Linked DNA regions of Homo sapiens: region 2 is linked to region 1. Evidence: fine-mapped expression QTL. A gene starts in region 1. The other region holds a variant in brackets. All regions are shown on one strand. Distances are from middle to middle. Region 1 holds the start of KCP (kielin cysteine rich BMP regulator). Region 2 overlaps SPMIP1 (sperm microtubule inner protein 1).

Evidence for each region. PIP is the estimated chance that this variant, and not a neighbour inherited with it, causes the effect. A credible set is the group of variants that fine-mapping cannot tell apart.
Region 2: its variant is the best candidate, but not a certain one, in a credible set for the expression of KCP in whole blood (TOPMed, PIP 0.56).

Annotation. Positions count from the first base shown.
Region 1 is chr7:128,908,818-128,913,190 of GRCh38, reverse strand. KCP (kielin cysteine rich BMP regulator) reads left to right here and starts at 2,482. Exons shown (of 40, transcript NM_001366122.1): 1 at 2,482-2,590. The coding sequence starts at 2,515. It also overlaps the pseudogene LOC392787.
Region 2 is chr7:128,866,834-128,871,206 of GRCh38, reverse strand. It overlaps SPMIP1 (sperm microtubule inner protein 1), which reads right to left. Exons shown (of 2, transcript NM_001195150.3): 2 at 1-2,541. The coding sequence ends at 2,432. Among named protein-coding and RNA genes, the nearest start is that of SPMIP1, 2.7 kb to the right of the region's middle. RefSeq lists silencers at 1,070-1,189, 1,250-1,769, 1,900-2,009. The variant C/T (reference allele first, on the strand shown) is at 1,942.

The sequences.
Region 1 (4,373 bases):
TCCACCCACCCCTCAGGTCCGAGGCTGTCCGGAGGCCACAGCCTTCACGAAACATCCACGGTTCTGGTGGAGACTGTGACCAAGTCCTCCTCAAGCCGGGGCTCCAGCTACAACTCCATCCCCAAGTTCTCCTCAGATGCCAGCAAGGTGGTGACTCGGGGCCCTGGGCTGTCCCAGGCCTTCGTGGGCCAGAAGAACTCCTTCACCGTGGACTGCAGCAAAGCAGGCAGGTGGCGGGGGGAGGGCGTCTCCCGGGGTGTGAGCAAGAAGCCGTCAGGGAGCAGGGTGTGGGTCACAGTAGGGGACTCCCTGGTGTGAGCCTGTCCCTCTGCCTCCCTCTCCAGGCACCAACATGATGATGGTGGGCGTGCACGGCCCCAAGACCCCCTGTGAGGAGGTGTACGTGAAGCACATGGGGAACCGGGTGTACAATGTCACCTACACTGTCAAGGAGAAAGGGACTACATCCTTATCGTCAAGTGGGGTGACGAAAGTGTCCCTGGAAGCCCCTTCAAAGTCAAGGTCCCTTGAGTCCCAAAAGTGCCTCCCCAGCCTCAGCCCCCACCTCCAGCCAAACACACATTACATACACACACACACACACACAAATGTGCCACACCCAGACACACACACACAGAATCAGACACTACAAACACCTGCCTTGGGGGTGAAGTGAAGGCCCAGCCTCCCCACCCCACCGCACCCCAGGGGTTGGAGGACCTTTTCTGTGTCAGGACAGTGTCCCTCCCTGGGAATGTGATATGAGGGCCGACTGGGGCCAGGCTCAGTGGCAGAGGCTAAGACACAAGGGACTGGAAGGGGACTGTGGGGCGAGGGAAGCCCTGTGCATCCTCCCAGTGTGGTTTAGAGCTGCTCACCCTGATTCTCTCTGATTCTTTCTGTAAAATGGGGATGGAGGTGCCCCCATTCTTCATAAGGGAAGTAAAAATTGCTCATACCTCTGTGCCAAGCACCATGCATTACTAATCCTTACAAACACTCCATGAGGTGGGTGCTGTTAGAGCTCCAGTCACAGTTCAGAAAAATCAGCCACCAAAAGTGAAGTGACCAGCCAGAGGCCCCAGAGCAGAAAGCAAGAGCTCCAGGATGCGCCCTGGCAACCCTGCCAGAATCTGTGCTCTGAACCGTCCCACTACCCAGCCCCTCAGAGGACTTGCTTTCCAGAGGCACCCGGTCAATGAAAGCCACCTTCCTTAAACCTGCCAGGAATAGTGCTGCCGCTTCCTTGTTCCTCTTCTGGCTGGCTGGCCCTGGCTTTCCTCTGTGACCTCAGCTCCAGGCACTGAGGCCAGGTCTTAGCGTGGCATTGCAGCCTCCCTGCCCCCTGTGGCAAAGGCTCAGGTCCACTATGGGCCCAGACTCTGGGGCAGAGAAGCTGCCGTCTCCTTACTGAAGCTTTAAGCTTGGTGGAGAGTGGGCTGGGGAGACCTCAGTCCCTGCCTGGTCTAGGGGGAGGGGTGGCTTCCGACTTCTGGTCTTTATGACAGGGAGGGAGAGCTTTGGAAGGGTTCACAGCTCCGCCCTCAATGTTCCTTTTTGCCTGTGAGCTTCGCCTGTGAGACCCAACCCTCTGCTTCCCAGCTTCAAGGAGGAGTTTCCCAGCCTGTGGGCCCACAGGGACGGCTGTCCTCACTTCCTCCCTTTGGCCCCCTCTGCCTGCTGAGCCCAGGGCCCAGCCCTGCCCCCTACCCAGGCTCACCCCACAGCCAGGCCTGAGCTCAGGAGTGGGAAATGGGGCTGAGACCAGCCAGTGAAGGGCGGCCTTGGCATTTGGGGCCAAGCCTGGGACTGCTGGGGTGGGTAGGGGTGTTGAGTGGAGTTCAGGAAAGAAACTTATAGGGGAGAGAGGAAAACACTGGTCGTGTCCATGATTTCAGAGATCAGGAGTTCTTATTATTATTATTTGTTATTTACTGAGCATTTACCATCTCTCTACCGACTCTAAATTCTTTACTTATATAATCTCACTTAATGCTCACTGCAAGTCTATAAAGTAGATGTGGTGATCCCCAGTTTACAGATAGGGAAATTGAGGCACAGAGAAGTTAGTGGTCTAAGGCCACATGGAATTGGCTGAGCAGGGATCTAAACCCAGCTCAGTCTGCTTCTTCTGTAAACTTGTGAGAGAGAGGAAAAATCGATCTGGAAACCCTAGGGCGATGGAGTAACCTAAAAGGGCAGGGAGACTCTCTAGGATCCCGAGAGGGGTGGACTTGGGTTTATTTTCTTTTCAGGGTCTCCTCCTGGATCTTAAGCGGAGACAAGGCCTACACCCCCGTTGGGCTTCCTGCGAGCTGGAGCTGCTCTCTGGGGTCAGGACCGGCCGGGCCCGGGGCGGGTGGAGGTGTGCATGGGAAAGGCGCGCGCGGTGGGGGGTTTGAGCCCTCCCTGAACAAAGCCTGGGTGGGAGCGGCCTGTGTGTCCCCACCCCGCCTTCCCCAGCGCCTGCTGAGCCGCGACGACAGACGGCGAGCCGAGCGAGGCGGAGCTAGCATGGCCGGGGTCGGGGCCGCTGCGCTGTCCCTTCTCCTGCACCTCGGGGCCCTGGCGCTGGCCGCGGGCGCGGAAGGTGAGTCCAGGTGCGGGAGGCTTGGGGTCCGGCCAGGTGCGCCCCCTCCCTCCTATCAGCCCGGCCTGAGGGGGCCGAGAGGGGCTGGGGGCTCTGCTCTTAGCCCTGCCTGAGGTTCGCGCGCCTCCCTGGCCAGCTCCGTCCTCCCCGTCGGGGGAGCGAGCAGGGTGGGGAAGACCACGGCCAAAGCAGGGGGTTCAGGAGAGGGGGGCGGTTCCTGCAGCCGGCGGCGGGAGAGAGTGCGGCTGCCCTGGCATCTGGGAGTCTGAAGTTAATTATTTGTCTTGACGAAGGAGGGGGAGAAAAGGGGCCCGCTGTGGAAGCTGACTTTGCATCTGTGTCTGGCCCTCCCCGGAGCAGGACAGGCGGGAATGGAGGGCTCGGTGCCGGCACGGGGCCAGGGGAGGCTAAGAGGGGAACCCGGGACAATTCCTTGGGGACCAGCCAAGTTTGTGCCACTCGGAGCTCTTTCTGCAGGTCTCTCCAGGCGAGGCTGGCCCTAGCTTCACCTAGGGGTCCCAGAGGATTCAGCTTCTCCCGGGCTCCCATATCCTGCCTGCCTACTTAAGCAGAACTGGAGGAGTGGCCTGGGAGGAGGGGCCCTGGGCAGCAGGATGAGGCCCCACGGGAGTCTAGATTGGGTAGAAGGTTTCAGATGCTGAGACGCCCATCGTGGCCGCCCTCTGTGTGCTTGGGAAGGACTGAGACCGGGTGCCATTCCGGGTGACAGGATCCCCAGTAGAGGGACGGAGATGGGAAAGGGCACCTGGGGTTTGAGGGCCAGTATTCGCCCAGGGTGCGGGAACTGAGTTAGAATCCCTGATATAAGCCAGAAGTAGCGGGGCTGGAAAGGTGGGCGGTGCTTGTGATCCATCCCAGCGGGACTTGCTCCTGGGAGACTTCGGCTGTGTGATTCAGAAAGGTCGAGTGGAGAGAAGGGGCACAGATGGAGGCAGGGACGCTTTGTCTTCAGCCTTCTGAATGGAGATGGTGGAGAGAGGAGAAGGGGGGGATGTATTAGGGGACAACTCAGGCAACAAAATAGGGGAGCTGAGCCCCAGCTTTCTGGCTTAAGTAACTGGGTATGTGTGATGGCATTAACCAAGCCAGGGAACTTGGGACAAAGCAAGTTCAATTTTAGCCTAGAATCCCCTCTGCCTTTGATGGTGACAGTGGGTGACATTGTTCCCCTGTCTCACAGGCCTAGTGTCTGTGAGAAACCCTTTTAAGCCACTCCAGGCCTGGCCTCACTAATGAGCTGCCATGGTGGGAAAGACCCATCCCTCTCCCTCCTCCTCTCTCTGTTCCTATTGCCTCCGCTCCAGACCCTCAACTTCCCTGCCCATCCCTGCCTGGAGGAGGGACCTATGTCTGCCTCTTCCCCTCCTGCCTTTACTTTCTGGGCTGCAGGAGAAGGATCAAAGTGAAAAGGTGAAAGTGGCCGCCCCTAACCCCAGGCCAGAGCTCAGAGGTGCCCCGTCCCTCTTTCCTGGACATAGTGTCTTCTAGAAGCAGGGACAGGCTGTCTTCACTGGATCTGGTGTGTTCAAAGTTAGCAGGGGCCTTGCCAGCACATTTCTCACACCCTTCAGAAAATGCAGCCAAGTCCCACTTTTGAAGCCCACCCCACCCAATGTGGGAGCCCCCAGGAACCCCTGTCACAAGCCTGGAAAACCGTGCTCAGGGTTGGGGGCGGGAGCAGTTGTCCTTCCCTGAGCACATTCTCCAAAAGTTGTGGCCTTTCTGACAGGTGCAGAGAGTCAGGGGATGGGGGCTGCTCATG
Region 2 (4,373 bases), 42 kb after region 1:
GGGGCAGGCTGTTGGCAGGCACACCTGACAGGTGCATGGCTGGCTGATTGATGAACTGTGACAGCCTGAGGTTCAGACAGCGCCCTCAGGGCACCCCTAGCCATGCACTGGGACTCCCTAAACTTCCTGGCTCTAGTCTAGGTGAACTGTGCATGAGGGGCTGGGACATGAGCTCCCAATACTGGTCTTTCTTCCTCAGGCTCCTTACAAGAGCTCAACCCCACTACCAGGAGGAGTTTTGGGGTGCCAGGTAGCTCAGAGTGCAAGGTGAAAAGGTCAAGGGTCTCAGGTTGGGGATGGCAGGGGTGGGTCTGCCTGGGAGGAGGCTGCTGGGGTGAGGAGGAGGCTCTTCAGTGAAGCACCTTCCACACTACATAAAATGGCTTTAACAAATTCAGGAATCAGGCAAAGGCTGGCCCCTGGGGTCTGCAGGTTCCCTCTCAAACCTGGGCCCAAAGTGCTTTTCCTTTCCAGGACCTGGCCCAGAGGGAAGAGAGGAGTGAGGCAGAGCCTGAGACCCAGAAAAGAAAGCTCACTCCCGGGACCCCTGGGCCGGGGGACCTGCCCTCCCAAAACCTGCCTTCCCAAGATGCCCTTGAAGGGCTGGGCTCGGACCCGCACCTGGGCCAGGAGAGAGCAGAACTTCAAAGACCACCAAGGATGGACACCCCTGAGTCTGAGAGGAGGACCCTCAGGATCAGAAAGCGGAGACCCCTCAGCGTAAGAGAGCCGAGGCCTCCTGGGGCGAGATCAAAGATGCTCCTCAGAGTCAGAAGGTGAAGACACACGGGGGCCAGAGCCCAAGGGCTCCTCAGGGTCAGAGGGAGGAGTCGAAGAGAATTTAGTCCTAAGTGCCAGGGAAAGGCGAGTCCCCAGAGTCCAGGGAAGAAGATGCTGCGGTCTTGGGAAGGCAATATCTCACAAGCCTGGGAGGTGGCTCCCGGAGAGGCCACTGTGCAGCCCCCAGAGGAAGGCGACCCCCATAGCCATCCGAGGGACTCCTGCGGGTCCCTGAAAGCACAGACTCCAAAGCCTGTGGGCAGGGAGAGCCCAAACCTCCGGAGAAGGACTACCACGCTGACGCAGAGCATGATCAAAGGCGAGCCACAAAGGTCGGCACCGGCGGTGGCAAAGCTGGGGGCCGCCCGGGAGGGGGCGTGGGCTGCGCTTACCCGCCCGAAGCCCCCGGCCCGGCGGCGGCTCCCAGGTCGCGGAGCCGGAGCCGAGATGCCAGCGACCCTGCGCGCCGAGGTATCCGGGCAGCAGGGGCTCCTCGGGGCTCTCCGGGGCCCCCAGGCCTGGAGCGCGATCCGCACGGGCTGCAGGGCCCTGGAGTGGGCCCCGCACCGGGGGAGCAGGAGGTGGGCCAGGCTTGGCTTCCGGGTGCCCTCCGGGGTCGGGTGGGGCGGCCCTGAGCGTCCCAAGGCCTTGAAGGCCGCGTGGCCGGCGCCCCTCAGCACCGCCAAGGCGCCTGCGGGCTTAAGCGCGGCGCAGCAGGTGACGGCTCTGCAGCGGCTGCTGGAGCTGCACAGCGCGGCCAGGCGGCAGCGCCGCCGGCGGGACCGTGAGCAGCAGCGGCTCCGGGTGTGTCCCCACGCCGGGATCGGGGCCTGCCTGGAGCGGGCGGGGCACCGAGGGGCGGCCGGACGCTGACTGCCGCCTCTGCAGGTCCTGGAACGCCTCCACATCGCCAGGAACCGCCACTGCCGGGTTCACCCCGTGGGGCTCCCGCCCAGTCCGGCTCAACTCCCGCCACAGGCAAGACCCCTAGAAGGCGGTGGGGCCACAAGGAGCCTGCGCGGGGCAGGGGCCGAGCTTAGCGCGCCCGGGTCCCTTTGAAGTGAGCGCACTGCACTCTGGCAGTGACTCGGCGGGGCGCGAGGGGCAGGTGTGCCAGGTGCTGCCCCGCCCGCCCCACTGAGCCGCGGACGCTCAGCGCTC[C/T]GCACCGCCAGGAGGACGCGGCTGGGCGGCGGCGCGCCCTGCGGGAGCAGCTGGAGCAAATGCATCGGGAGAGGACGGAGCGGCTGCGGGCCCTCGGGGCCAGGTGAGGGGCGGGCAAGGAGGGGTGTGGCGGTGGCAGGAGGCCCCTTTCCCTGGCCTCCGAAATGACAAGCCGCTCTCTCCCCAGGAACACCCAGAACTTCCTGGAACTACTGTGTTCCCCTGGTGCTGAGGATCCCGTGCCTGCGAAGTAGTGCTCGCCCTTCCCAGCACCCTCTGGTCATTGCTGAGTCCTCAAAGGGATGATTAAAGTGATGAGGGTTACGGAAAAAGCAAGAGGGCAACTTGCAGGTCTGATAGTTTCAGAAAGGCCTGAATGCAACCTCAGGGACAGGGAGAGCAGAGGGGCACAGACACACACAGCAGCTTTGCCCCACCAGGAGGCCTGTTATTTCTTCTTCCCTCCCCTAAGCCCACACCTGGCCCACGGTCAGAGGGCCAGGTCTCGGGGATCAAGCAGTGCGAAGGCCCCGTTCTTGCGGAAGAATGACTCAATGCGGCACATCTTGCAGGAGACCAGTTCTTGCTTCACTGGGGGGCCTGGGAAAAGATGTCAGAGGCCAAGCATGGGTTCCTGAGGGAGGGACACGCAGAGCATGGGAGCCCTGTCTGTCTGCACAGCCCTAGGAATCCGTCAGTGGAGTAGCCACTTTGTGGGAAGAAATAGAAAGTGCTTTGGAGGAATGGGAGCTATGGGCAAATACTGGGAGCTGGCTGGATGCCAGGATACAGCAGCCATCTGCCATCATTACCCTAGCTTCAGGATCCTCTACCTGCAGGGAGGGGGGCCACCCTAGCCTGCTTGTCACAGGGACAGACTGTGGAGAGATGAGATTTCCTTCGGCCTCCTGCTCCCCGCTTCTAGGGCTCGCCTCCTGCTTTTGTTAGAAAGTTATTTCCCTGACTTCCCCTTTAGGGGCCTGGGGGAAAGGGATGTTTGGGGGCAAAATCTCAACTGAGTCAATCCCCAACCATCCACCTTTTCTGCAAGACACTCAAGCAGCTGGAGAAGGGTACAGGGCTGAGGAGTCTCACTTGACATTCATGAGCACAGACAGCAATGGGACGTGCAGCAACATCGCCCAGCAGCCCTGCCTGGCACATGCCTGTTCCACACCTTTCCTCTTCATCTCTAGTTACTCCACTGCCTCAGCTCAGCTCCCTCCCCGCTGATGGCCTTGACTCAACCTCACAGAAAAAAGACTCAGCCGAGATGGACAGGCTTCCTGCCAATGACATCCCCTACCCGCTCTGGCTCAGCCCTCCTGCCCCCACTCCCATCAGATTCCAGCAACTTGAGCTCCCTAGGAGATCTCATGGATTTAAATAGCACCTATAGGCCAGCCGGTGGCTCATGCCTGTAATCCCAGAACTTTGGGAGGCCGAGACAGGCAGATTACGAGGTCAGCAGTTCGAGACCAGCCTGGCCAATATGGTGAAACCCTGTCTCTACTAAAAAAACAAAAATTAGCTGGGCGTGGTGACACACGCCTGCAGTCCCAGCTACTCGGGAGGCTGAGGCAGAAGAATCTCTTGAACCTGGGAGGCAGAGGTTGCAGTGAGCCAAGATCGTGCCACTGCATTCCAGCCTGGGTGACAGAGTCAGACTGTTTCAAAAAGAAAAAGAAAAAAAAAAAGCACCTATATTCCAATGACCTCCGAATTTGCATCTTCAGCTCTGACTTCAATCCAGACTTATAGACACAGCCACCCTACAGACACTTCAAGCATAACATAGCCAAACACACATGGCTAAATAGGACCTGTTCATGCACGCTCCAGCCCTGACCTCTCCCAGTCTTCCCTGTCACTGCAGCTTTAGCTAAACAAACACCTGGGTGATTGATCTCTCTTCCCCTTATTCTCACATTCTATCCATGGGTGAGTTCCACCGAGTCTTCCCCCAAAACATCCTGAATTGATTTCAGCTCTATTGCTGATCCCTCAGGCCACTACCACAGGATAACCAAACAGATGCCCAACTCATGTGCCAGATTCTACCATTTCCCCTGAAAAAGCCACTGCCTACATACAGGTCAGGGTGACTTTTTAAAAGGTTCACCAGTGTCACTCTTGAAATCTGCTTAGAACCCTCCATCAGCTTCCCTGCACAACAAATAAAATCCAAACCCATCCTTATCATCTGGCTCTCAGCCTCGGGTCCTCAGAAAGGCCTTTCCTGACAATCCAATAAATAGCAGCACGTGGCCGCTGCCTCCCTGCCCACCGCCACTCCCTAGTTCTGTGGAACGTGTCGACACTTCTTGGCCATCTCCTTGCTCTGTTTATAGTCTGGACCCTTCACCAGGATGCCCACTCCCTAGCACATGGCTAGTGCTCTGTTTTTGAGGTGATTTCCAAGAGGTTGGGCT